Linked DNA regions of Homo sapiens. The protein of the gene in region 2 interacts with the protein of the main gene of each other region in a biochemical or structural test. Each region holds a gene or a part of one and is shown on either strand. Other genes may lie near its edges. The genes, in order: ITGA2B, CIB1, TERT and STMN2.

Region 1 (7,030 bases), on a different chromosome or scaffold from region 2:
ACCAGTCATTGGTTATGAAATTGGTATTCCTATTTCACATATGGCAGAATTGTGATTTAAACCTAGATCTGCTAGGGTCCTCCTATCAGCACACACACTCCAGCCCCACTTTAGAGGTACCCGCTACCTTCCCTCATTAAAACCAGCTCTCAAGAGGGGATCTGGTAACAGTCTAGGCAGGCATTCCAGGGAGCATGTGAACCGCTGGTTCTTGTTGCGGGTGGAAGGATGGAGGTGTTGTACAGAGTTTAGGTCTTTTTCAGCAAAGATCTCAAACCCCTGGTGTTCAAATCAAACCAAATGGTTATAGTCCCAGCTCTACTCTCAACTCACTGGGTTACTTTAGCCACGTGATTGCCCTCGCTGAGAGTCGGTTTCACTGTCCATAAGATGAAGAAGTACATCACGGTGGTCTGTGAGGTGTCATTGAGGAAAGATGGTCCAGTGCCCCCATGCCACATGGCCTTCCGGGCAGTGCTCCCAGCGCCGGCGCCAGGGCCTGGGATACGCTGGAATCTGCGCGGCGCTCACCCAGCTTTCCTATGCAGAGTGGCCATCGTGGTGGGCGCCCCGCGGACCCTGGGCCCCAGCCAGGAGGAGACGGGCGGCGTGTTCCTGTGCCCCTGGAGGGCCGAGGGCGGCCAGTGCCCCTCGCTGCTCTTTGACCTCCGTGAGTCCCAGGCAAGGAGAGCAAGGTTGGGGTCAGAGGGACGTGGACTGCCGGGCTTCAGCGCCCCACCCCTTCTTGTGCCTTCCAGGTGATGAGACCCGAAATGTAGGCTCCCAAACTTTACAAACCTTCAAGGCCCGCCAAGGACTGGGGGCGTCGGTCGTCAGCTGGAGCGACGTCATTGTGGTGGGCCCCGCGGTACAGGGCACAGGGAACAATCGGGGGCAGGGACACCTGGGGCCAGGAGGAGCCCAAGTCTCGCGCCCGTCCCCACTCCTGTGGCCTTTCTCCAGGCCTGCGCCCCCTGGCAGCACTGGAACGTCCTAGAAAAGACTGAGGAGGCTGAGAAGACGCCCGTAGGTAGCTGCTTTTTGGCTCAGCCAGAGAGCGGCCGCCGCGCCGAGTACTCCCCCTGTCGCGGGAACACCCTGAGCCGCATTTACGTGGAAAATGATTTTAGTAAGCGCCAGCTACGACCTGGCCCCGCCCACTCGCGACGGCTTGGCCCCGCCCCCATCGGATCCCGCCCCCAGCGCCGCAGCCCTTGCTTTGGATCTGGCCTCGCCCCAGGGCCCCGCCGACTCAAGGCCCCGCCCCTGTCCCCCAGCCCTCCTCCGGGCTCGCGCGCGCCTCCCTTCACCCCTGCGCTGACCCCTCCTCCTTGTCTCCTGCAGGCTGGGACAAGCGTTACTGTGAAGCGGGCTTCAGCTCCGTGGTCACTCAGGCGAGTAGGGAGCAAAAGCGCAGTGGGGGCGGCTCCCAAACAGGGCCCCCTCTCACCCTCAGGACTTCCCTTCCAGGCCGGAGAGCTGGTGCTTGGGGCTCCTGGCGGCTATTATTTCTTAGGTACGTGCCCATCCGTACACCTCCCTCCCTTCTCGCGGCCCAAGGAGACCGCTTTGGGCTTCACACCCGCTGTCCCTCCCGCCCTAGGTCTCCTGGCCCAGGCTCCAGTTGCGGATATTTTCTCGAGTTACCGCCCAGGCATCCTTTTGTGGCACGTGTCCTCCCAGAGCCTCTCCTTTGACTCCAGCAACCCAGAGTACTTCGACGGCTACTGGGGTAACACCGCCATTCCAGACTTCCAGCACCCCGAGGGTCACCGCCCACCGCAGACGGTCAGGTCCTGCCCCTGTGGGAGCCTCCATGGCCACCCCTGCCGGCCAACCCACCGCCTAAGCCGCTCCCGCCCTCCGCTCCTGCGGCTTCCCCGCAGACCGCCCACCTCCCATGCGCCCACCGCTCCCTTCCACTGCGGACTCGTAGCGCAGCCTGGGGCAGGGCTTGGCCCCTCGAAGGCCTCCGTTTTTCCATCTGCACAATGCAGGGCTGGGGCTGAGTGGCCTTAATCTCCTCCTTCTTTGCCCTCCGTCCCCTCTGTGCTTCCTCCCCTGGAAAAGACTAATTTGCGCCCTTGTCCTCAGGGTACTCGGTGGCCGTGGGCGAGTTCGACGGGGATCTCAACACTACAGGCAAGAAATCCACTTAGGGCGGGAGTTGGGTAGCCCAGCCCGGGGAGGAGCGCCTTCCTGAAATCTCCCCTATGTAGGGAAATCTTCCTGCACACACATTTTTCCCTGGGTGCAGAACGGGGAGCGGGAAGTGGGTAGGTTCTAAGGCTCTCATTCCCTGAGCCTGGCTCTCCCTATCGCCAGAATATGTCGTCGGTGCCCCCACTTGGAGCTGGACCCTGGGAGCGGTAAGTGCCCCCACCACTGGGCCTCCCGAAGCCCCTTATCCCAGTTCTCAGGCTGACAACTCCTGAGCGCCCCCCACCCCCGCCCCGCCTCCACCAAACCACCCTTTCTCACCTGGAGTGGGAGGTTGCTTTGGGTACAAGAATGATGCTCTCGCCTGCGCTGTCCGTGCAGGTGGAAATTTTGGATTCCTACTACCAGAGGCTGCATCGGCTGCGCGGAGAGCAGGTGGGGGCCAGGTCCCAGTGGGCGTGGCTGGGTGGAGGGGGAACTGAGACTTCAGAATATTTCATGGGAGGTGAGGGCCCATTTCTTAAAGAGGATGCTTGTCCAGCGGCGTGAATGATGGTGCTCCTCATCTTGCAGATGGCGTCGTATTTTGGGCATTCAGTGGCTGTCACTGACGTCAACGGGGATGGGTGAGGAGGGACATGCCCCACCCCTACCCAGTTGGGTCCCAAATTACCAGAGCTGCCCTCTGTCTCCCTTTCCTAGCCCTAGTCTCACGTATCCACTGGAGGAACAGGAGAGCAAGGGTCGAGGAGATTTGGCCCTAGCCCCAATATACCCCTGGTCCAGTCCCATGTAACCACTCATCTGGCCCACAGGAGGCATGATCTGCTGGTGGGCGCTCCACTGTATATGGAGAGCCGGGCAGACCGAAAACTGGCCGAAGTGGGGCGTGTGTATTTGTTCCTGCAGCCGCGAGGCCCCCACGCGCTGGGTGCCCCCAGCCTCCTGCTGACTGGCACACAGCTCTATGGGCGATTCGGCTCTGCCATCGCACCCCTGGGCGACCTCGACCGGGATGGCTACAATGGTGAGGGAAGAGAGGAGCCCTACTTGCTGCAGAGGGGTTAACAGCCACTCAAAAAGCATGGAGTTGGCCTGAGGGCAGCCAGAACCAGGATGGGTTTTAAGCATATAAGTATGTGGCTTAGACACATGGGGTGCTGAGTGGAGAGCAGATGGGAGAGTTGAAGACTAATTAGGAAGTGTTTGCCTTAATCCAAGCAAGAGACAATGACCACCTGGATGTGGATTTTGGCAGTGGAGTTAGAGATGGGAGTGACTTCACAGATATTTAGGACTCGGATTATTAGGACTTGGTGGGAGACTGGATGTGGGGCCAGGGGAGAGGTTGGAGTTGGGTGCCTGTGATGGCCTCCACTGCCTGGAACTCAGGCCGTGCAGCAGGTGCTGGGGAGAGGCGGGAGATCAGCAGTTCAGCTCTGGACCTGTTGAGCTTGAAGGGCTTGGGTGCTTTAGGCGGAAATATCCAAAGAACAGTTGGGAGTGGCTCTCCCCGCTTCCACAAGAGAGATCTGAATGGGAGACAGGGGTTTGGGGAAAGTGGATGAGGTCCCGGGACCTGTGAAATAAGAGGCCCAGGATAGAGCCCTAGGGAGCAAAAGCATTTAGGTGACTCCTACAGGAGGTAAGTCTGAGAAGGAGACAGAGGAGTGTCCAGAGAGGGAGGAGGGAACCCAGGGGGTCTGATGGCCCGGGACTCAAGGAAGAGCATGCGTTAAAGAGCATGCACAGGAGGAAGTGGGCGCTGCAGCTCCTGCTGCTGCTGCAAGATACAATTAGGTGGGGCTGGAGAAATATTCATGGGCTTTAGCAAGAAGAGGGTGCCAGGCATGGTGGCTCATACCTGTAATCCCAGCTACTTGGGAAATTGAAGCAGGAGAATCTCTTGAACCCGGGAAGTGGAGGTTGCACTGAGCTGAGCTTGCGCCACTACTGCACTCCAGCCTGGGTGACAGAGCAAGACTCCATCTCAACAAAATAAAAAAAAAAATAGAGAAAGAAAGGAAGAAAGAAAAAAGAAGGGGAGGTTATTGGTGACAGTGACATAAATTGATTCAGGCCAAGATAGGGTCAGAAGCCAGAATGCAATGGGGTAAGGTATGAATGGAGATGAAAAATTGGATGCAGCTAATGTAGACAGCTCTTTCAACAGGTTTGTGGTAAAAAGGAATTTGAGGAATAGAAAGGAAAAAAAAAAACATGTTTGACTATAAGAGGAAAAAGAGAAAAGGTGATCACAGAAAAGAGATGAGGGTCAAGGGAAGATTATTTCAATGTGGAAGAACATGTAGTAGGTTGAAAATGATGTTGTGGGGAAATGGGGGGATGAGCCAGCAGAGAGTCCCTGTGATGCCTCAGGGGGTGGGAGGGTGACTGGCCCAGTGTCAGGGTGAAGGAAGGAAACCTCTTCCAGGGTCAAATGGGGAAAGGGAAAAGAAAGTTGGTGTGGGATTATAGCATAACAGTGGGCTGCCTCTCTTCCTGAAGTAAGAGATTACGTCACCTGCTGAAGGAAGTGTGGGGGGTCTGGGAGTTTGATGGAATGGAGAAGGCTAGAAATAGATGCTAGATGGCCAGGCACGGTGGCTCACACCTGGAATCCCAGCACTTTGGGAGGCCGAGGCAGGAGGATCACTGGAGCCTAGGAGTTTGACACCAGCCTGGCCAACATAGGGAGATCTCGTCTCCATAAAAATTTTTAAAAATTAGCTGGGCATGGTGGCTATAGTCTCAACTGCTTGGGAAGCTGAGGTGGGAGGATTGCTTTAGTCCAGAAGGTTGAGGCTGCAGTAAGCCATGGTTGCACCACTGCACTTCAGCCTGAATGACAGTGCAAGACTGTCTTAAAAATAAAAAAATTTTAAAAGGGGCTTGGGCACGGTGGCTCACACCTGTAATCCCAGCACTTTGGGAGCCCAAGGTGGGCAGATCACTTGAGGTCAGGAGTTCGAGATCAGCCTGGCCAATGTGGTGAAACCCCGTCTCTACTGAAAATACAAAAATTAGCCGGGCATGGTGGTAGGCGCCTGTAATCCCAGCTACTGAAGAGGCTGAGGCACAAGAATCACTTTAACGGGGGAGGCAGAGGTTGCAGTGAGCCGAGATCGCACCACTGCACTCCAGCCAGGACAACAGAGCGAGACTCCATCTCAAAAAAAAAAAAATTTAGAAAAGGGAATAATGATGCTTAATTTTCAGGATATATTTTCCTCAATAGACAGTGAGAGTTGTCACTGTTTTTATAACAATCCTACTTGGCAGGTCCCTCTCCCACCTGATTGTTAACTCCTGGAGGGTAGGGCAGTGCCTCCTTCACCCACACTTTGCACCCCTTTCCTAGTCTCCTGGGATGTTCCCAGAGAAGCTCAGGAAAGTTTTACAGTCATCTAGGGAGGCTGAATAACAATCAGCCACTTCCTTTCTGTTACTCCTTCCAGACATTGCAGTGGCTGCCCCCTACGGGGGTCCCAGTGGCCGGGGCCAAGTGCTGGTGTTCCTGGGTCAGAGTGAGGGGCTGAGGTCACGTCCCTCCCAGGTCCTGGACAGCCCCTTCCCCACAGGCTCTGCCTTTGGCTTCTCCCTTCGAGGTGCCGTAGACATCGATGACAACGGATACCCAGGTGCCCTGGACTGCCTCCAGCTAGAAATGCCCAAGAAAGGCCCTTGGACATTCGCTGGAAGTGCCAAGAGACACGGCCAGGGGCTCATGCCTGGCCTGGTGTCCCACTATGGACTGCCAGAGGGGCTGGGTGAAACCTCCAGTGGGGGAGGTGGTGTGGGGAACCCCTGGGAAGATGAGATGAGGATCCCATGCCCTAATCGCCAATTCTGACCCATTCCTCGATGTCTATAGACCTGATCGTGGGAGCTTACGGGGCCAACCAGGTGGCTGTGTACAGGTGAGCACTGGCTCCAGGGGCGGGATGGGGAAGGTCCTGTGCCATCAAGAGGAGGCCAGGCCAGGAGGAGCCACAATGGCAAGCCTACCCCATCACCCTATCCCATCAGAGCTCAGCCAGTGGTGAAGGCCTCTGTCCAGCTACTGGTGCAAGATTCACTGAATCCTGCTGTGAAGAGCTGTGTCCTACCTCAGACCAAGACACCCGTGAGCTGGTGAGGAGGCAGAGGGCATGGGCCTTAAAGGATCTGGGACCTCAGAAAGGCTCCAACCCCTGAGCCCCACTTACGTCTTTGCAGCTTCAACATCCAGATGTGTGTTGGAGCCACTGGGCACAACATTCCTCAGAAGCTATGTGAGTGGCATGAAGGGGGCAGGAGGGAGGTGGGCTTGGACTCCCCCGGAGGCTGGCCAGGGAGGTCCTGACTCTTCTGCTTGCCCTGCCAGCCCTAAATGCCGAGCTGCAGCTGGACCGGCAGAAGCCCCGCCAGGGCCGGCGGGTGCTGCTGCTGGGCTCTCAACAGGCAGGCACCACCCTGAACCTGGATCTGGGCGGAAAGCACAGCCCCATCTGCCACACCACCATGGCCTTCCTTCGAGTACGCCCAGGCAGGGGATTGGCAGGGCTGGGAGAGTAGAACTTACCCACTGGACTTGTTCATCTAGCCCTGGGGCACTGAGCTGGGTGCTGTGAGTCCGGGGGTGGTCAGGACACGGTGCCTACTGGCCAGGAGAAGGTGGGATGTGTATGGTAGCAAGATGGCCTGACTCTTGCCCCTGTCCTAGGATGAGGCAGACTTCCGGGACAAGCTGAGCCCCATTGTGCTCAGCCTCAATGTGTCCCTACCGCCCACGGAGGCTGGAATGGCCCCTGCTGTCGTGCTGCATGGAGACACCCATGTGCAGGAGCAGGTAGGGACAGGCAGGGACAGGCCAGGGAGGTGCAGGACC
Region 2 (7,951 bases):
GATTTTTTATACACACCATCAAACTGCCCTCCAGAAAATCATACCTGAGTTCCAGTGCATGAGAGTGCTCAGGGTTTCAAAGATGACCACTTCTTTTGTGGGAAAAGCTTTTCCATGTTCCATAGTGATTCCAATTGGTCATGCATAGAAACATTTGGGTGAGGATGGCACTGATGTGTGGGTAAGTGTCCAGGGCCAACCTTTCAAGGGGGAAATTAGTGCCTGTCTTCATCTTCCCCTGGCTGCCTGGAGCCCTGGACCCAGCACTGTCAGGGAGAGGGGTCTGCCACTGGCCCAGATAGGATGTCAAAAGGAGGCATTACCTTAGTAGAGTCACTTCAGTCCAAGTTTGGGTTCCTTCAGCTCTGCTGCTCCAGAAACTTCATGTTAATAAAACAGAAAGGAAACAAAACATATAAAAAATTACATATCAAAAGTCAAGCTAAGTTTAATGAGTATTGAGGCTTAGTTTGCAAGATGAAAACGTCCTGGAGATTTGCCGCACAACATCGTGAATGTGCTTAACACGACTATACACTTAGAAATGGTTCAGATGGTCAATTTTTTTTTTAAAGACAGAATCTCACTCTGTCAGCCAGGCTGCAGTGCAGTGGCACGATCTTGGCTCACTGCAACCTCCACCACCCAGGTTCAAGTGATTTTCATGCCTCAGCCTCCTGAGTAGCTGGGACTACAGGTGTGTGTCACCACGCCCGGCTAATGTTTGTATTTTTAGGAAAGACCAGGTTTCACCATGTTGGCCAGGCTGGTCTCGAACTCCTGACCTCAGGTGATCCACCTGCGTTGGCCTCCCAAAGTGCTGGGATTACAGGCGTGAGCCACCGCACCTGGCCAAAAATGTTTAAAAGTGAAGCTAATCCTTTGAGCTGGAGCTGCAAGGTAAAAGACAACAACAACAAAAAAGTGAAGCTAAGCATAATTTTGATGATCAAATGTAGTATCTTATTCTCACCTTACTGCAATGTCTGCCTCCCAGACTCAAGCAATCCATCCACCTCAGCCTCCCAAGTAGCTGGGACCACAGGCACTTGCACCAGGCCTGACTAATGTAGTATCTTATTCTAATAAAAGAGAATCTTATCTGACAGGCGAAAAAATTTAAAATGAGATAATAAAAATAATACAAAACCAAAAAAAGGAGAAAAAAAAGAGATAATCTTAGACATTTTTTCAAATAAGATATAAAGATGGCCAACAAGCACATTTGGGATGTTTAACGTCATTAATCAATAAGAAAAGGCAAATCAAAATCACAATGAGGGGCTGGGTGCGGTGGCTCACACCTGTAATCCCTGGACCAGCACATTGGGAGGCTGACGCAGGTGAATCACGAGGTCAAGATACCGAGACCATCCTGGCCAACATGGTGAAACCCTGTGTCTACTAAAAATACAAAAATTAGCTGGGCGTGGTGGTGGGCACACACCTGTAGTCCCAGCTACTTGGGAGGCTGAGGCAGGAGAATCACTTGAACCTGGGAGGTGGAGGTTGTGGTGAACTGAGGTGGTGCCACTGCATTCCAGCCTGGTGACAGAGCAAGACTCCATCTCAAAAAAAAAAAAAAAAAGGGAAAAAAAGAAAATTACAATAAAGTCCGGGCACGGTGGCTCACGCCTGTAATCCCAGCACTCTGGGGGGCCAAGGTGGGTGGATCACGAGGTCAGGAGTTCGAGACCAGCCTGGCCAATATGGTGAAACCCTGTCTCTACTAAAAATACAAAAAAATTAGCCAGGTGTGGTAGTGGGCGTCTGTAATCTCAGCTACTCGGGAGGCTAAGGCAGGAGAATCGCTTGAATCTGGGAGGCAGAGGTTGCAGTGAGCTAAGATCGCACCACTGCACTCCAGCCTGGTGACAGAGTGAGACTCTGTCTCAAAAAAATAAATAAAATAAAAAATAAAAGTATATCAGCAGCTCGGTTTTATCACTGTACCAAGAGTTGATCAGGTACAGGAGGGACAATATGCTAACCAGATTCACCGAGGACTACCAAATGATTCAGACTGCCCATTTAATAATCTACCATGAGAGGCCGGGCGTGGTGGCTCAGCACTTTGGGAGGCTGAGGGAGGCGGATCAAGAGATCAGGAGATCGAGACCATCCTGGCCGACATGGTGAAACCCCGTCTCTACTAAAAAAAAATACAAAAATTAGCTGGGCGTGGTGGTGCACTCCTGTAATCCCAGCTACTCAGGAGGCTGAGGCATGAGAATCAGGTGAACCTGGGAGGCAGAGGTTGCAGTAAGCCAAGATCATACCACTGTACTCCAGCCTGGTGACAGAGTGAGACTCCATCTCACAAATAAAAATAATTTACAATGAGAAATATGCCAAATGGCACAAAAGGTTCTTGCTGGCTGGTCAGTGTACAAAATGAATCAGGAAGCAAAATGAAAACCAAAGGTTGTTCCATGAAGGGTTCAGAGCCAAGTGAAGTGACTGAGAGATCTAGATCACAGCTGGTCACCAGGCACAAAGCTGACTCTCATGTCTTCACTATAAAGAGATACTTATGGCTGGGTGCAGTGGCGCACGCCTGTAATCCTAGCACTTTGGGAGGCCAAGACAGGCGATCACCTGAGGTTGGGAGTTCGAGACAAGCCTGACCAACATGGAGAAACCCCGTCTCTACTAAAAATACAAAACTAGCTGGGTGTGGTGGCACATGCCTGTAATCCGAGCTATTCAGGAGGCTGAGGCAGGAGAACTGCTTGAACTCAGGAGGCGGAGGTTGCGGTGAGCTGAGATCATGCCATTGCACTCCAGCCTGGGCAACAGGAGTGAAACTCTGTCTCAAAAAAAAAGAAGACAGATACTTATTACCATGCAGTCCAGGTATTCGCCTTGGCTTGTAAGAGGCAAACAAGGTCTATTTAGTACAGGAGACATAATGACAGCTTCTTGCTTTTTGCCTAAGCTTTTACTAACAGAAGACTAACTCTTTCTCGGACAGAAAGAGCCTGCTATTAAGAGAAAAATGATCGGCCGGGCACGGTGGGTCACGCCTGTAATCCCAGCACTTTGAGAGGCCGAGGTGGGCGAATCACGAGGTCAGGAGATCCAGACCATCCTGGCTAACAGGGTGAAACCCCGTCTCTACCAAAAATACAAAAAAATTAGCCGGGTGTGGTGGCGGGTGCCTGTAGTCCCAGCTGCTGGGGAGGCTAAGGTAGAAGAATGGCGTGAACCCAGGAGGCGGAGCTTGCAGTGAGCCAAGATCATGCCACTGCACTCCAGCCTAGGCGACACAGCGAGACTCTGTCTCAAAAAAAAAGAGAAAAATGATCAGGTTGGGATGGGCCTATACCCTAGTTATTTTTTTTTATTTTTATTTTTTGAGACAGAGTCTCACTCTGTTGCCCAGGCTGGACTGCAGTGGCACAATCTCCGCTCACTGCAACCTCCAGCTCCCAGGTTTAACCATGTCTGGCTAATTTTTGTATTTTTAGTAGAGATGGGGTTTTGCCATGTTGGCCATGCTGGTCTTGAACTCCTGGCCTCAAATGATCCGCCTGCTTCAGCCTCCCAAAGTGCTGAGATTACAGGCATGAGCCACCGCGCCTGGCCTTGAATATTTCTACAATGATGGAATGTACCTGTTAATACAGTGTGTCTTATCAAACACATGCTGCCAAGGAGAGCACTGGGTATTCTTCCAGTGTAAAGTAGATTCCTAGGCAGTCTAGGGAGTCAGGAAAGGCTTCCCTGAGGATGAGATGGAAGAGGGACTGAGGGCCCAAAGTGGCTGAAAGACAGAGAGCCAATAGGAGGAAGTCCAGTTACAGAGGGCCAGGATTTGGGTTTTTAACCATTTAATGGTTATAAACTGAGACTAACATACTCAGATTTAGACTTTACAAAGATCAGCAAGTATAATGGATTGGAAGGATCAAGAATTAATCCCAGCCTGACCAACACAACCTCCACTTCCTCCTCCCAGCAGTTTGGAATCCTTACCTTTTGCAATAGTATACGTTCATTCATTTATTATGCATTCGATAATATTTACTGAGAGCCTACTATGTGCCAAACATTATCCTAGAGGTTAAGAGGGGACAAGAGCAAAGGGTCAGCAGTCTAGGGGTGAGATGGAGTCAAAAGGACGGCAGGTCAGCTGGAATGATGAGAACAGCAGTGGAGAGCCTTTAAAAGTGCCTTGGACTGGACCGATTACCTTCTAAATGCCGGCGCCCGGAAAAATCACTAACACCCTTTGGACTTACGTATTTCCATCTTTGTAAAATGGGAACCTACCTCGCAAGGGATGTTGCAACAATCGAAGAAAACTATGCACAATGCTTGACATCCAGTGGGTCCTCAGTAAATAGCCTAAGAAGGAAGCAAGGTTATGGTTACTTCTGGAAGAGGTGGCTTGGGGGCTGCGACAGGTGCAGCGATTGCCTGATGATAACATCTAGAAAAGCCCTTGCTGGGCAGAGGGGCAGCCGACGACCCCCGCCACTCAGCGAGTCTCCAGGTTTCCCGGAAACGCTAGCTCCAGTGACTTCTCAGATGCCCCTATGGGACCCCACCCAGGGCTGCCGCCGCCACCACCTACTGCAGCCGAAGCGGATGCACCTCGCGACTTTCCCCGCAGCCGCTGCCGGGGCCACAGCGAGGTCATGACGCCCGTGACGCATACGCAGCCAGCACGCACGCGCGCGGCGTGGCCCGCCCCCCCCTCCCACCCCGGAGGCGGGGCCGTGAGTCCCGGGCTCCGCCCCGGAGCGTCGGGCCCCTCCCCGGGCCCCGCCTCCAGCTCGCCTAGGACCGCTTGGAGCCGGCAGCTCGCCTGCCAAACCCGGCTGGGAACGCCTGGCAGCTTTTAGGAGGGGGCGGGCCCGGGGGTGGTGGCCCCAGGAGCGGTTGCCGCGGGGACCGGGCAGTGACGCGGCCCAAGGGCGGAAGTGAGAAAGTTGTCTGCGTCTCGAGGCGAGTTGGCGGAGCTGTGCGCGCGGCGGGGCGATGGGGGGCTCGGGCAGTCGCCTGTCCAAGGAGCTGCTGGCCGAGTACCAGGTGCGCGGGACGCCTGGCCCTGGGGAGCTCGCGTGCGGGCCTCTTCTCGGGAGCAGGGTCCGGGAGCTGGCTGCGGGGCGGCCGCGGCCTCCCAGCGGTCCGCTAATCCCCGCTCTGGCTTTGCCTTCCAGGACTTGACGTTCCTGACGAAGCAGGAGATCCTCCTGTAAGTGCTGCCTTGAACCCTGCCTCCGACCCCGGGATCCTCTAGAGACAGCTTCGGGGGCGCTGTCCCGAGGGAGGGGCGGGGGCTGGCCTGAGGTCTGCAGAGGAGCGGGAGCTGGAGGCCGGGAGACCTAGCCCGGGCTGCGCCCTCCTCCCGGCACGCCCTCCCCGCCCTCGCCTGAGGCCCCAGCGTGGCACCGCGGAGCCACCTTACAGCCTCCAGGAAAAGTTAGGCGCTCTTTGACCCTGGGCTCCACTAGCTTCAGCACTGCCGAACTTCCTGCCCCAGTCCGGCAGGGGCCGACCTTGCCCAGTGGCTAAACCACAGAAGCCTTGGGGAGCCCGGCTCCTTCTCCCAACTTTACCTGAATAATACAGTAACCGTTATCGCTTTCTGAGCACTCACCATGTGCCAGGGACTGTGCTAAATGGTTGCCTGCGTTACCTAATTTAATCTTTAGGAGAGAGGTACTGGACAATGAAACAGGTTCAGAAAGGTTTGGTAACTGCTTAAGACAACACTCTGAGTAAGTAGATTTGAACTTGGGCTGGAAGCCCTTTTGCCGGATTTATGCAGGCCAGGTTCCTGTGGCAAAGATAAGCTCATGGGAAGGAGGTGGAGGCCGAGGAGGACAGTTCAGTGTGGTTGCTAAAAAGGAGGCTTTGAGGGTAAGAGATCCCTGGAGTGAAGGTGAGAATGAGATTTTTGGTTTTGCTCTTTTCTCCGTTTTTTTTTTTTTGAGACAGCGTCTCGCTCTGTCGCCCAGGCTGGAGTGCTGGGGCACGATCTTGGCTCACTGCAGGCTCTGCCTCCGGGTTCAAGTGATTCTCCTGCCTCCGGGTTCAAGTGATTCTCCTGCCTCAGCCTCCTGAGTAGCTGGGATTATAGGCACCCGCCACCATGCCCGGCTAATTTTTGTATTTTTAGTAGAGAAGGGGTTCACCATGTTGCTCAGACTGGTCTCAGACGCCTGACCTCCAAAGCTCCGCCCGCCTTGGCCTCCCAAAGTGCTGGGATTACAGGTGTGAGCCACCGTGCCTGGCCAATTCTTTAGGGCCAACTTCTGGCTCCTTTCCCAACTTCTTCATCCCTTGGGGATCTCTAGAATCAGTGCCAAGCACATAGTAAATGCTCAGTAAATACTCATTGCAAGAATAGACTCCTAGGCTGTACTGCCTTGTGACATGTCCTTTTGCTTACCGTTGCCTGATGACTCGGAAGTTCTGTGTACGTGGTTTTAGCTCCTCACCTGGTTGACAATGAGCAGCAGGCAAGGAGTGGGAATGAACACACAGGGAGACCGATCGCTGAGAACACCGACAGTTCCCCTCTCTCTACCAGAGCCCACAGGCGGTTTTGTGAGCTGCTTCCCCAGGAGCAGCGGAGCGTGGAGTCGTCACTTCGGGCACAAGTGCCCTTCGAGCAGATTCTCAGCCTTCCAGAGCTCAAGGTGCAAGCGCTCCCCTCCTTTGACACCTCTCCCACCACTCCCTCCCTGCTAGACCCCCTAACTCCATCTGCCACTAGCTTTGGGATCATGGGGTCACTGGTCCCCACTCTGGTCATTTTTCTGCTTAGTTCTGATTTTCTAGGGGCAAGGACTTTACCAAAATCACCTGGCAGAATTATCTAGAATGGTGCTTTTCAAATGGGGATTCTAGAACATAATCTTGGAAGTTCAAAGAAGTTTTGTCCCTTAAGAGGAGTTGAGGTACCTCATTAGAGTTTGAGGAACCGTGTTCTAGAGGCTGATTGCCACTCCGTAAGGCTGCTGCAAAATTTCTGTGCAAAGGGCCTGGCCCGGTGCCTGTAACACAATAGCTGTTCAAGTAAATATTTGTGTTTTAAAATAACCAGCCCATCTCGTTCCCTTTGTTTAGGATGACTTCTTCTTCCCTCTCTGCCCACACTTACGTTGTATGTGACCTGCCTTTGGGTTAAACACTTGACTCCCAGGAAGCCATCTCAGTCCCTTCCCCAGCTGGGTCAGTTTGCTTTCCTGTGCCCCCACTGCCCTCCATGTTGGCCCCAAAGCACTGACTGTTCACCCCCACGAGGCTGAGCTCGCTGGTGCTGGTCCTGTGACCTGCTCTCTCAAGTTTCTGGTAGGCTTTAATGAGCGTGTGACCTGGGCCACGTCCTGTGGCGTTTGTTCTCCTAGGCCAACCCCTTCAAGGAGCGAATCTGCAGGGTCTTCTCCACATCCCCAGCCAAAGACAGCCTTAGCTTTGAGGACTTCCTGGATCTCCTCAGTGTGTTCAGTGACACAGCCACGCCAGACATCAAGTCCCATTATGCCTTCCGCATCTTTGGTGAGAACCAGGAGCAGCCCGGCAGGACACCACCCCTTCCCACGTGGGCTTTGTGGTGGCCCTGCTTGGGAAATGGGCGCCGTTTGGGGAACCTCAGAGCCCCTCCCAACCGTGTCTTTTGGCTTCCTGTGTCTGCTCTCTAGACTTTGATGATGACGGAACCTTGAACAGAGAAGACCTGAGCCGGCTGGTGAACTGCCTCACGGGAGAGGGCGAGGACACACGGCTTAGTGCGTCTGAGATGAAGCAGCTCATCGACAACGTGAGCAGCTGAGCAGGCCTGGGAGCGGGAGGGAGCAGTTGGGGCTCTGGCCTGAAACTCTCCCTTTCCCAGATCCTGGAGGAGTCTGACATTGACAGGGATGGAACCATCAACCTCTCTGAGTTCCAGCACGTCATCTCCCGTTCTCCAGACTTTGCCAGGTATGACAGTGGT
Region 3 (7,030 bases), on a different chromosome or scaffold from region 2:
GTGTCTGGATGGTGCAGGTCAGGGGTGAGGTCTCCAGGCCCTCGGTGAGCTGGAGGTATGGAGTCCGGATGATGCAGGTCCGGGGTGAGGTCGCCAGGCCCTGCTGTGAGCTGGATGTGTGGTGTCTGGATGGTGCAGGTCTGGGGTGAGGTCACCAGGCCCTGCGGTGAGCTGGGTGTGCGGTGTCTGGATGGTGCAGGTCTGGAGTGAGGTCGCCAGACGGTGCCAGACCGTGCGGTGAGCTGGATATGCGGTGTCCGGATGGTGCAGGTCTGGGGTGAGGTTGCCAGGCCCTGCTGTGAGTTGGATGTGGGGTGTCCGGATGCTGCAGGTCCGGTGTGAGGTCACCAGGCCCTGCTGTGAGCTGGATGTGTGGTGTCTGGATGGTGCAGGTCTGGGGTGAGGTCGCCAGGCCCTGCTGTGAGCTGGATGTGTGGTGTCTGGATGGTGCAGGTCTGGAGTGAGGTCGCCAGGCCCTCGGTGAGCTGGATGTGCAGTGTCCAGATGGTGCAGGTCCGGGGTGAGGTCGCCAGACCCTGCGGTGAGCTGGATGTGCGGTGTCTGGATGGTGCAGGTCTGGAGTGAGGTCGCCAGGCCCTCGGTGAGCTGGATGTATGGAGTCCGGATGGTGCCGGTCCGGGGTGAGGTCGCCAGACCCTGCTGTGAGCTGGATATGCGGTGTCCGGATGGTGCAGGTCAGGGGTGAGGTCTCCAGGCCCTCGGTGAGCTGGAGGTATGGAGTCCGGATGATGCAGGTCCGGGGTGAGGTCGCCAGGCCCTGCTGTGAGCTGGATGTGCGGCGTCTGGATGGTGCAGGTCTGGGGTGTGGTCGCCAGGCCCTCGGTGAGCTGGAGGTATGGAGTCCGGATGATGCAGGTCCGGGGTGAGGTCGCCAGGCCCTGCTGTGAGCTGGATGTGCGGCGTCTGGATGGTGCAGGTCTGGGGTGTGGTCGCCAGGCCCTCGGTGAGCTGGAGGTATGGAGTCCGGATGATGCAGGTCCGGGGTGAGGTTGCCAGGCCCTGCTGTGAGCTGGATGTGCTGTATCCGGATGGTGCAGGTCCGGGGTGAGGTCGCCAGGCCCTGCTGTGAGCTGGATGTGCTGTATCCGGATGGTGCAGGTCTGGGGTGAGGTCACCAGGCCCTGCGGTGAGCTGGTTGTGCAGTGTCCGGTTGCTGCAGGTCCGGGGTGAGTTCGCCAGGCCCTCGGTGAGCTGGATGTGCGGTGTCCCCGTGTCCGGATGGTGCAGGTCCAGGGTGAGGTCGCTAGGCCCTTGGTGGGCTGGATGTGCCGTGTCCGGATGGTGCAGGTCTGGGGTGAGGTCGCCAGGCCTTTGGTGAGCTGGATGTGCGGTGTCTGCATGGTGCATGTCTGGGGTGAGGTCGCCAGGCCCTTGGTGGGCTGGATGTGTGGTGTCCGGATGGTGCAGGTCCGGCGTGAGGTCGCCAGGCCCTGCTGTGAGCTGGATGTGCGGTGTCTGGATGGTGCAGGTCCGGGGTGAGGTAGCCAAGGCCTTCGGTGAGCTGGATGTGGGGTGTCCGGATGGTGCAGGTCCGGGGTGAGGTCGCCAGGCCCTGCGGTTAGCTGGATATGCGGTGTCCGGATGGTGCAGGTCCGGGGTGAGGTCACCAGGCCCTGCGGTTAGCTGGATGTGCGGTGTCTGGATGGTGCAGGTCCGGGGTGAGGTCGCCAGGCCCTGCTGTGAGCTGGATGTGCTGTATCCAGATGGTGCAGGTCCGGGGTGAGGTCGCCAGGCCCTGCAGTGAGCTGGATGTGCTGTATCCGGATGGTGCAGGTCTGGCGTGAGGTCGCCAGGCCCTGCGGTTAGCTGGATATGCGGTGTCGGATGGTGCAGGTCCGGGGTGAGGTCACCAGGCCCTGCGGTTAGCTGGATGTGTGGTGTCCGGATGGTGCAGGTCTGGGGTGAGGTCGCCAGGCCCTGCTGTGAGCTGGATGTGCTGTATCCGGATGGTGCAGGTCCGGGGTGAGGTCGCCAGGCCCTGCGGTGAGCTGGATGTGCTGTATCCGGATGGTGCAGGTCTGGCGTGAGGTCGCCAGGCCCTGCGGTGAGCTGGATGTGCAGTGTACGGATGGTGCAGGTCCGGAGTGAGGTCGCCAGGCCCTGCGGTGGGCTGTATGTGTGTTGTCTGGATGGTGCAGGTCCGGGGTGAGTTCGCCAGGCCCTGCGGTGAGCTGGATGTGTGGTGTCTGGATGCTGCAGGTCCGGGGTGAGTTCGCCAGGCCCTCGGTGAGCTGGATATGCGGTGTCCCCGTGTCCGAATGGTGCAGGTCCAGGGTGAGGTCGCCAGGCCCTTGGTGGGCTGGATGTGCCGTGTCCGGATGGTGCAGGTCTGGGGTGAGGTCGCCAGGCCCTTGGTGAGCTGGATGTGCGGTGTCCGGATGGTGCAGGTCCGGGGTGAGGTCACCAGGCCCTCGGTGATCTGGATGTGGCATGTCCTTCTCGTTTAAGGGGTTGGCTGTGTTCCGGCCGCAGAGCACCGTCTGCGTGAGGAGATCCTGGCCAAGTTCCTGCACTGGCTGATGAGTGTGTACGTCGTCGAGCTGCTCAGGTCTTTCTTTTATGTCACGGAGACCACGTTTCAAAAGAACAGGCTCTTTTTCTACCGGAAGAGTGTCTGGAGCAAGTTGCAAAGCATTGGAATCAGGTACTGTATCCCCACGCCAGGCCTCTGCTTCTCGAAGTCCTGGAACACCAGCCCGGCCTCAGCATGCGCCTGTCTCCACTTGCCTGTGCTTCCCTGGCTGTGCAGCTCTGGGCTGGGAGCCAGGGGCCCCGTCACAGGCCTGGTCCAAGTGGATTCTGTGCAAGGCTCTGACTGCCTGGAGCTCACGTTCTCTTACTTGTAAAATCAGGAGTTTGTGCCAAGTGGTCTCTAGGGTTTGTAAAGCAGAAGGGATTTAAATTAGATGGAAACACTACCACTAGCCTCCTTGCCTTTCCCTGGGATGTGGGTCTGATTCTCTCTCTCTTTTTTTTTTCTTTTTTGAGATGGAGTCTCACTCTGTTGCCCAGGCTGGAGTGCAGTGGCATAATCTTGGCTCACTGCAACCTCCACCTCCTGGGTTTAAGCGATTCACCAGCCTCAGCCTCCTAAGTAGCTGGGATTACAGGCACCTGCCACCACGCCTGGCTAATTTTTGTACTTTTAGGAGAGACGGGGTTTCACCATGTTGGCCAGGCTGGTCTCGAACTCATGACCTCAGGTGATCCACCCACCTTGGCCTCCCAAAGTGCTGGGTTTACAGGCTAAGCCACCGTGCCCAGCCCCCGATTCTCTTTTAATTCATGCTGTTCTGTATGAATCTTCAATCTATTGGATTTAGGTCATGAGAGGATAAAATCCCACCCACTTGGCGACTCACTGCAGGGAGCACCTGTGCAGGGAGCACCTGGGGATAGGAGAGTTCCACCATGAGCTAACTTCTAGGTGGCTGCATTTGAATGGCTGTGAGATTTTGTCTGCAATGTTCGGCTGATGAGAGTGTGAGATTGTGACAGATTCAAGCTGGATTTGCATCAGTGAGGGACGGGAGCGCTGGTCTGGGAGATGCCAGCCTGGCTGAGCCCAGGCCATGGTATTAGCTTCTCCGTGTCCCGCCCAGGCTGACTGTGGAGGGCTTTAGTCAGAAGATCAGGGCTTCCCCAGCTCCCCTGCACACTCGAGTCCCTGGGGGGCCTTGTGACACCCCATGCCCCAAATCAGGATGTCTGCAGAGGGAGCTGGCAGCAGACCTCGTCAGAGGTAACACAGCCTCTGGGCTGGGGACCCCGACGTGGTGCTGGGGCCATTTCCTTGCATCTGGGGGAGGGTCAGGGCTTTCCCTGTGGGAACAAGTTAATACACAATGCACCTTACTTAGACTTTACACGTATTTAATGGTGTGCGACCCAACATGGTCATTTGACCAGTATTTTGGAAAGAATTTAATTGGGGTGACCGGAAGGAGCAGACAGACGTGGTGGTCCCCAAGATGCTCCTTGTCACTACTGGGACTGTTGTTCTGCCTGGGGGGCCTTGGAGGCCCCTCCTCCCTGGACAGGGTACCGTGCCTTTTCTACTCTGCTGGGCCTGCGGCCTGCGGTCAGGGCACCAGCTCCGGAGCACCCGCGGCCCCAGTGTCCACGGAGTGCCAGGCTGTCAGCCACAGATGCCCAGGTCCAGGTGTGGCCGCTCCAGCCCCCGTGCCCCCATGGGTGGTTTTGGGGGAAAAGGCCAAAGGGCAGAGGTGTCAGGAGACTGGTGGGCTCATGAGAGCTGATTCTGCTCCTTGGCTGAGCTGCCCTGAGCAGCCTCTCCCGCCCTCTCCATCTGAAGGGATGTGGCTCTTTCTACCTGGGGGTCCTGCCTGGGGCCAGCCTTGGGCTACCCCAGTGGCTGTACCAGAGGGACAGGCATCCTGTGTGGAGGGGCATGGGTTCACGTGGCCCCAGATGCAGCCTGGGACCAGGCTCCCTGGTGCTGATGGTGGGACAGTCACCCTGGGGGTTGACCGCCGGACTGGGCGTCCCCAGGGTTGACTATAGGACCAGGTGTCCAGGTGCCCTGCAAGTAGAGGGGCTCTCAGAGGCGTCTGGCTGGCATGGGTGGACGTGGCCCCGGGCATGGCCTTCAGCGTGTGCTGCCGTGGGTGCCCTGAGCCCTCACTGAGTCGGTGGGGGCTTGTGGCTTCCCGTGAGCTTCCCCCTAGTCTGTTGTCTGGCTGAGCAAGCCTCCTGAGGGGCTCTCTATTGCAGACAGCACTTGAAGAGGGTGCAGCTGCGGGAGCTGTCGGAAGCAGAGGTCAGGCAGCATCGGGAAGCCAGGCCCGCCCTGCTGACGTCCAGACTCCGCTTCATCCCCAAGCCTGACGGGCTGCGGCCGATTGTGAACATGGACTACGTCGTGGGAGCCAGAACGTTCCGCAGAGAAAAGAGGGTGGCTGTGCTTTGGTTTAACTTCCTTTTTAAACAGAAGTGCGTTTGAGCCCCACATTTGGTATCAGCTTAGATGAAGGGCCCGGAGGAGGGGCCACGGGACACAGCCAGGGCCATGGCACGGCGCCAACCCATTTGTGCGCACAGTGAGGTGGCCGAGGTGCCGGTGCCTCCAGAAAAGCAGCGTGGGGGTGTAGGGGGAGCTCCTGGGGCAGGGACAGGCTCTGAGGACCACAAGAAGCAGCCGGGCCAGGGCCTGGATGCAGCACGGCCCGAGGTCCTGGATCCGTGTCCTGCTGTGGTGCGCAGCCTCCGTGCGCTTCCGCTTACGGGGCCCGGGGACCAGGCCACGACTGCCAGGAGCCCACCGGGCTCTGAGGATCCTGGACCTTGCCCCACGGCTCCTGCACCCCACCCCTGTGGCTGCGGTGGCTGCGGTGACCCCGTCATCTGAGGAGAGTGTGGGGTGAGGTGGACAGAGGTGTGGCATGAGGATCCCGTGTGCAACACACATGCGGCCAGGAACCCGTTTCAAACAGGGTCTGAGGAAGCTGGGAGGGGTTCTAGGTCCCGGGTCTGGGTGGCTGGGGACACTGGGGAGGGGCTGCTTCTCCCCTGGGTCCCTATGGTGGGGTGGGCACTTGGCCGGATCCACTTTCCTGACTGTCTCCCATGCTGTCCCCGCCAGGCCGAGCGTCTCACCTCGAGGGTGAAGGCACTGTTCAGCGTGCTCAACTACGAGCGGGCGCGGCGCCCCGGCCTCCTGGGCGCCTCTGTGCTGGGCCTGGACGATATCCACAGGGCCTGGCGCACCTTCGTGCTGCGTGTGCGGGCCCAGGACCCGCCGCCTGAGCTGTACTTTGTCAAGGTGGGTGCCGGGGACCCCCGTGAGCAGCCCTGCTGGACCTTGGGAGTGGCTGCCTGATTGGCACCTCATGTTGGGTGGAGGAGGTACTCCTGGGTGGGCCGCAGGGAGTGCAGGTGACCCTGTCACTGTTGAGGACACACCTGGCACCTAGGGTGGAGGCCTTCAGCCTTTCCTGCAGCACATGGGGCCGACTGTGCACCCTGACTGCCCGGGCTCCTATTCCCAAGGAGGGTCCCACTGGATTCCAGTTTCCGTCAGAGAAGGAACCGCAACGGCTCAGCCACCAGGCCCCGGTGCCTTGCACCCCAGTCCTGAGCCAGGGGTCTCCTGTCCTGAGGCTCAGAGAGGGGACACAGCCCGCCCTGCCCTTGGGGTCTGGAGTGGTGGGGGTCAGAGAGAGAGTGGGGGACACCGCCAGGCCAGGCCCTGAGGGCAGAGGTGATGTCTGAGTTTCTGCGTGGCCACTGTCAGTCTCCTCGCCTCCACTCACACAGGTGGATGTGACGGGCGCGTACGACACCATCCCCCAGGACAGGCTCACGGAGGTCATCGCCAGCATCATCAAACCCCAGAACACGTACTGCGTGCGTCGGTATGCCGTGGTCCAGAAGGCCGCCCATGGGCACGTCCGCAAGGCCTTCAAGAGCCACGTAAGGTTCACGTGTGATAGTCGTGTCCAGGATGTGTGTCTCTGGGATATGAATGTGTCTAGAATGCAGTCGTGTCTGTGATGCGTTTCTGTGGTGGAGGTACTTCCATGATTTACACATCTGTGATATGCGTGTGTGGCACGTGTGTGTCGTGGTGCATGTATCTGTGGCGTGCATATTTGTGGTGTGTGTGTGTGTGGCACGTGTGTGTCCATGGTGTGTGTGCCTGTGGTGTGCATGTGTGTGTGTCTGTGACACGTGCATGTTCATGCTGTGTGCTGCATGTCTGTGATGTGCCTATTTGTGGTGTGTGTGTGTGCATGTGTCCGTGACATATGCGTGTCTATGGCATGGGTGTGTGTGGCCCCTTGGCCTTACTCCTTCCTCCTCCAGGCATGGTCCGCACCATTGTCCTCACGCTCTCGGGTGCTGGTTTGGGGAGCTCCACATTCAGGGTCCTCACTTCTAGCATGGGTGCCCCTGTCCTGTCACAGGGCTGGGCCTTGGAGACTGTAAGCCAGGTTTGAGAGGAGAGTAGGGATGCTGGTGGTACCTTCCTGGACCCCTGGCACCCCCA
Region 4 (3,572 bases), on a different chromosome or scaffold from region 2:
AAACTGGATGTGGTTCCTTTGGTCCTGTAAGATCCATTTGGGTCACTGACAGGACCCTGCTGCGCCCATGTGTGCAGTGTGTTTATTGGCAGTACAAAATTCAGCAGTACGTCAGGGATCACATCTTAACAGACGGCCTAGGCTGGGGGAGGCGTTCTGTGGGCCACAGGGGAGAACTTGAGATAATGCCAGGAACCTTCAATGTTTTGAAAAGGGCTCACTTCCTCAGAATTATCAGTCTGCATTTTGTGGTATCTTGTTCAGTCCTGTATGTTTTTAAAGGGAGCAGATTGAAGACCTCTCCCACAGTGTTGGCCCATCAGAGGGCAAGAGAAAAGAGATGCGGCCTGCTGTTCCCAAAGGGAAATGACTCAGCAGGGCACTGGTTTCCTTCAAACTCTCCTTATTATCTCTTTGCTTGTGAGATTGTCTAATTCAGTGGCTGCCCTTTTAAAATCTGAACTCCAGGGTCAGACACATGAAGAGGCAAGAGAACAGACCAAACCTTTATTAGTTCACAGAACTCCAATTCTTTATTAATCACAGCTTGCTCACAATGACATACAGGAAAATAGCACTAATGAAGAGTAAATATGCAGGCAGCAACCTTCAGGAGTTGGGAGTTGGGGAGAAACGACTTCAAAACTGCGATAGGTACTTATGGTGGGTATCTGGTGATTCTTAGTTGGCACAAATGCCCTGCCTAGCCCCCTTAACTGCGTCAGCTTCACAGATGGAGTGTTTTGTTGTTGGTGTTGTTAGTAGGCAGGATTGCCTTACACTGGGGAAGAAAGACCAGCTTGAGTGAAAGTCCGCAGTGTTTTTGATTTTGTTTGTATGTGTGTTTTAATGCAACAACCAGCTCACAGTTTCCAAGTGGAAAAATATTCAGTAGCATCATGTACTTGTACTATAGGTAAGAGCTTAAAATGAACATCATCAATCATGGCATCCACAAATAAGCCACCTGACACATTAATTAATTCATTCCATCAAAAGAACTTAAACTAGAGAATTAAGCCCACTTTATGAAGAGCGATTTCACGGCTGCTTGAACCATTCGAATTTGGATTTGTGTTCAGCACTTTAAAAGGTTCAACTTTTTGCTTCTACCCAGATTGGTCTCAGGTCTGTCTTCTCATCCATCCCTTTCTAAAGCCAAAGCACATTTGTAGCACATAATCCAGGAGAAGCAGAAGTAAATGCTATGACTGGTGGTATTTCTTAGCCTGGTTTTGTAGTTTTTAGGCAGTAAGTAGATTATGAGCGAACAAATGTGAAGGTTCATGTGGAGTCATAATACCTGTGATCTAGGTATGGTCTTAGTCAAGCTCAGAGACAACAAAGCCTTCTAGGTCATTAGGCAATGGTGGGTTTCTAGCACCATAGACTGTCTACTGACCTCATTTTTCTTTTGGAATGGAGTTAGACATGGGGAGCTTCAAAAAGAACAGACCTAGCAAATTCATTTGAGTGGAAAGACACAACATCAAAAGCCTGTTACAGGACATGTAAGATTATGAAATAACTTGCATAATGCAATACTTGTATTTTTTAACAAAAATGTAAGTATTTACAAAATAAGATCCAAGGTATTTTTTAAACATCAAGCAAAACATTCTGCAAAGAGACCGCATTGATTTTTTTTAATTTTTGATTTTTTTTGTTTTTTTTTTTTTATAATGAGTTCTTTTTAAACCATGTCATACATTCCCCATCCTGATATCGCATGATCCATTATAATATAGGCAGGGGGATTTACTATTGGTGGGGCGTGCCAGACCCTCCCTTGCTTCAGCCAGACAGTTCAACCTGGAGTTCCTTGTTCCTGCGCACCTCCGCAGCATGCCTCTCCTAAAAAACACAAAAGGAAGAAGAAATGTCACAGGCCCTTTTTGTCTGGTCCTTTGCGTACCATGCGCTTGACTAGAAGTAACCCAGTTTGGTGTCTACTTTTATGAATTTTTCCCATTTCAGAAGGAAAATATGGGCCCTGCAAAATGTCATGTTAGAAAAGATCTTACAAGACTTACTGTGTTTTAAAAAATATATTTAACACTGTTTTTGTTTAAAACTATGACCAAAAGTTCATGTTATTAAGATAGTTTTGAATATTAGGATCAGAGTATAAATCCAGAGAAAGGTAATAAAACATCACATTATTGTTTCTCTATCATTTCTAATGATGTCGTTCCTTTTGACTAATATTTTAAGGACTTTATAATCCTGATGGACACTCTGGGAGGGCTAGATCCAGGACGAAGACTTTCTATACTGCTTCTTAAACTCTTGACCTGTTTGTCAAGGCCCTTCATAATTGCAGTCCAAGTGACGTTTCCAGTCATAACCCCCATCTTTTCCTACACACACTTGATGTTTCAGTTTAATGGAATTGTCTTGTCATGCAATTTTCAATGCTAGTCTTTCATCTCCACTGGTCAGGATTATAAACTTACTCTTTAAGCCCTATGACCATTGTCCTTTTCTCCATAAAGATTTTTATGAGACTGCAAAGACTAACCTGCAAACTTATCTCACTTTCCATTTGAACACCTGCATAAATCTTTCCTTTTATTCGGCAGTCATTTTATTCTAGTTGTATTATGAGCCTCTCTGTTCTTGTCTCCTCTATTATATTTGACTGTAAGCTCATTGAGGGCCTGGACTATGTTTTATCATTTTTTTTTCCATTTGCAGGGCCTAGCAGAGTGCTTTGCAGATAGCATGTAATTGGTGGATGTTTATTTACATAAGGAACCAAGGTACTAGCCTGGGATTGGGAACTGAACTTCCTGAGGAGGGAACTGATGGAGGAAGTATTTTTTAGTATGTGGCTATACATCAGATGACTAAAATCAGTATTTTTTAGTATGTGGCTATACATCAGATGACTAAAATCAAACTGTCTTGCATATATCATAGGCGCTAAATAAATGTTCATTGAATTGAAATTTTAAGATGCTAATTATTAGTAGTATTATTTATATTTCTGTAGAATGTTGCTTACATTGCTTCTCTCCTTCCCTCTGAAGCTCCAGAAATTGAGACTCTATAGATTCTTTTAGTTCAGAAGAAATAAACTTGACCAGCTATAAAGTAAAACTTATCGTTAAACTCTATTAATCTCAAGGAGTCTACACTTATAGGGTTCTTTATATCATAATACTGAATATTTATTAGGCACTTAATGTGTACCAGACCTGCATCAGTACACGTTTTACCTGTATTAATTCCCTTAATCCTCACAATAATCTTATAGTGGACATTCTATTATTGTCCCCATTTTGCAGATGAAGAAACTGAAACACAGGAAGGGTAAGTAACTTGCCCATCTTCATGATACTAACAAGTGGGATTTAAACCCAGGGAACCTGGCTCTACAGCTCACTCTCTTAATCACTGCTATACAATTTCAATGTTGAGTGAGGAGAACATTTTATAGTTGCATGGAAAAATGTGTCTTTTCAAGTGTAGATTCTGGGAGAAAAAAGGCATAGACCACCCTATACTTCCTTCAAAGATACAGAGTTGGAGTAAGCAGGAAGTTGACTCTAGAGAAAGAGATTAAAAAC

What was found.
Region 1: the proteins of CIB1 (region 2) and ITGA2B form a complex in vitro, tested with the Homo sapiens proteins (one study listed by BioGRID).
Region 3: the proteins of CIB1 (region 2) and TERT form a complex in vitro, tested with the Homo sapiens proteins (2 studies listed by BioGRID).
Region 4: the proteins of CIB1 (region 2) and STMN2 form a complex in vitro, tested with the Homo sapiens proteins (one study listed by IntAct).

Annotation. Positions count from the first base shown.
Region 1 is NC_000017.11:44,379,650-44,386,679, reverse strand, and holds part of ITGA2B (integrin alpha-IIb preproprotein), read left to right. Parts: intron 1-548; coding exon 549-670; intron 671-758; coding exon 759-856; intron 857-963; coding exon 964-1,129; intron 1,130-1,344; coding exon 1,345-1,394; intron 1,395-1,470; coding exon 1,471-1,516; intron 1,517-1,603; coding exon 1,604-1,732; intron 1,733-2,094; coding exon 2,095-2,142; intron 2,143-2,325; coding exon 2,326-2,369; intron 2,370-2,541; coding exon 2,542-2,595; intron 2,596-2,733; coding exon 2,734-2,786; intron 2,787-2,975; coding exon 2,976-3,187; intron 3,188-5,618; coding exon 5,619-5,801; intron 5,802-6,034; coding exon 6,035-6,080; intron 6,081-6,189; coding exon 6,190-6,294; intron 6,295-6,378; coding exon 6,379-6,434; intron 6,435-6,526; coding exon 6,527-6,678; intron 6,679-6,865; coding exon 6,866-6,991; intron 6,992-7,030. UniProt on the Homo sapiens protein: Integrin alpha-IIb/beta-3 is a receptor for fibronectin, fibrinogen, plasminogen, prothrombin, thrombospondin and vitronectin. It recognizes the sequence R-G-D in a wide array of ligands.
Region 2 is NC_000015.10:90,230,921-90,238,871, reverse strand, and holds the start of CIB1 (calcium and integrin-binding protein 1), read left to right. Parts: upstream 1-4,930; 5' UTR 4,931-4,986; coding exon 4,987-5,037; intron 5,038-5,168; coding exon 5,169-5,203; intron 5,204-6,424; coding exon of another isoform or gene 6,425-6,544; coding exon 6,545-6,653; intron 6,654-7,364; coding exon 7,365-7,515; intron 7,516-7,658; coding exon 7,659-7,777; intron 7,778-7,849; coding exon 7,850-7,938; coding exon of another isoform or gene 7,939-7,951. UniProt on the Homo sapiens protein: Calcium-binding protein that plays a role in the regulation of numerous cellular processes, such as cell differentiation, cell division, cell proliferation, cell migration, thrombosis, angiogenesis, cardiac hypertrophy and apoptosis.
Region 3 is NC_000005.10:1,278,064-1,285,093, reverse strand, and holds part of TERT (telomerase reverse transcriptase), read left to right. Parts: intron 1-2,469; coding exon 2,470-2,665; intron 2,666-4,755; coding exon 4,756-4,936; intron 4,937-5,623; coding exon 5,624-5,803; intron 5,804-6,297; coding exon 6,298-6,453; intron 6,454-7,030. UniProt on the Homo sapiens protein: Telomerase is a ribonucleoprotein enzyme essential for the replication of chromosome termini in most eukaryotes. Active in progenitor and cancer cells. Inactive, or very low activity, in normal somatic cells.
Region 4 is NC_000008.11:79,663,097-79,666,668, reverse strand, and holds the end of STMN2 (stathmin-2), read right to left. Parts: intron 3,090-3,572; coding exon of another isoform or gene 3,008-3,089; intron 1,855-3,007; coding exon 1,795-1,854; 3' UTR 511-1,794; downstream 1-510. UniProt on the Homo sapiens protein: Regulator of microtubule stability. When phosphorylated by MAPK8, stabilizes microtubules and consequently controls neurite length in cortical neurons.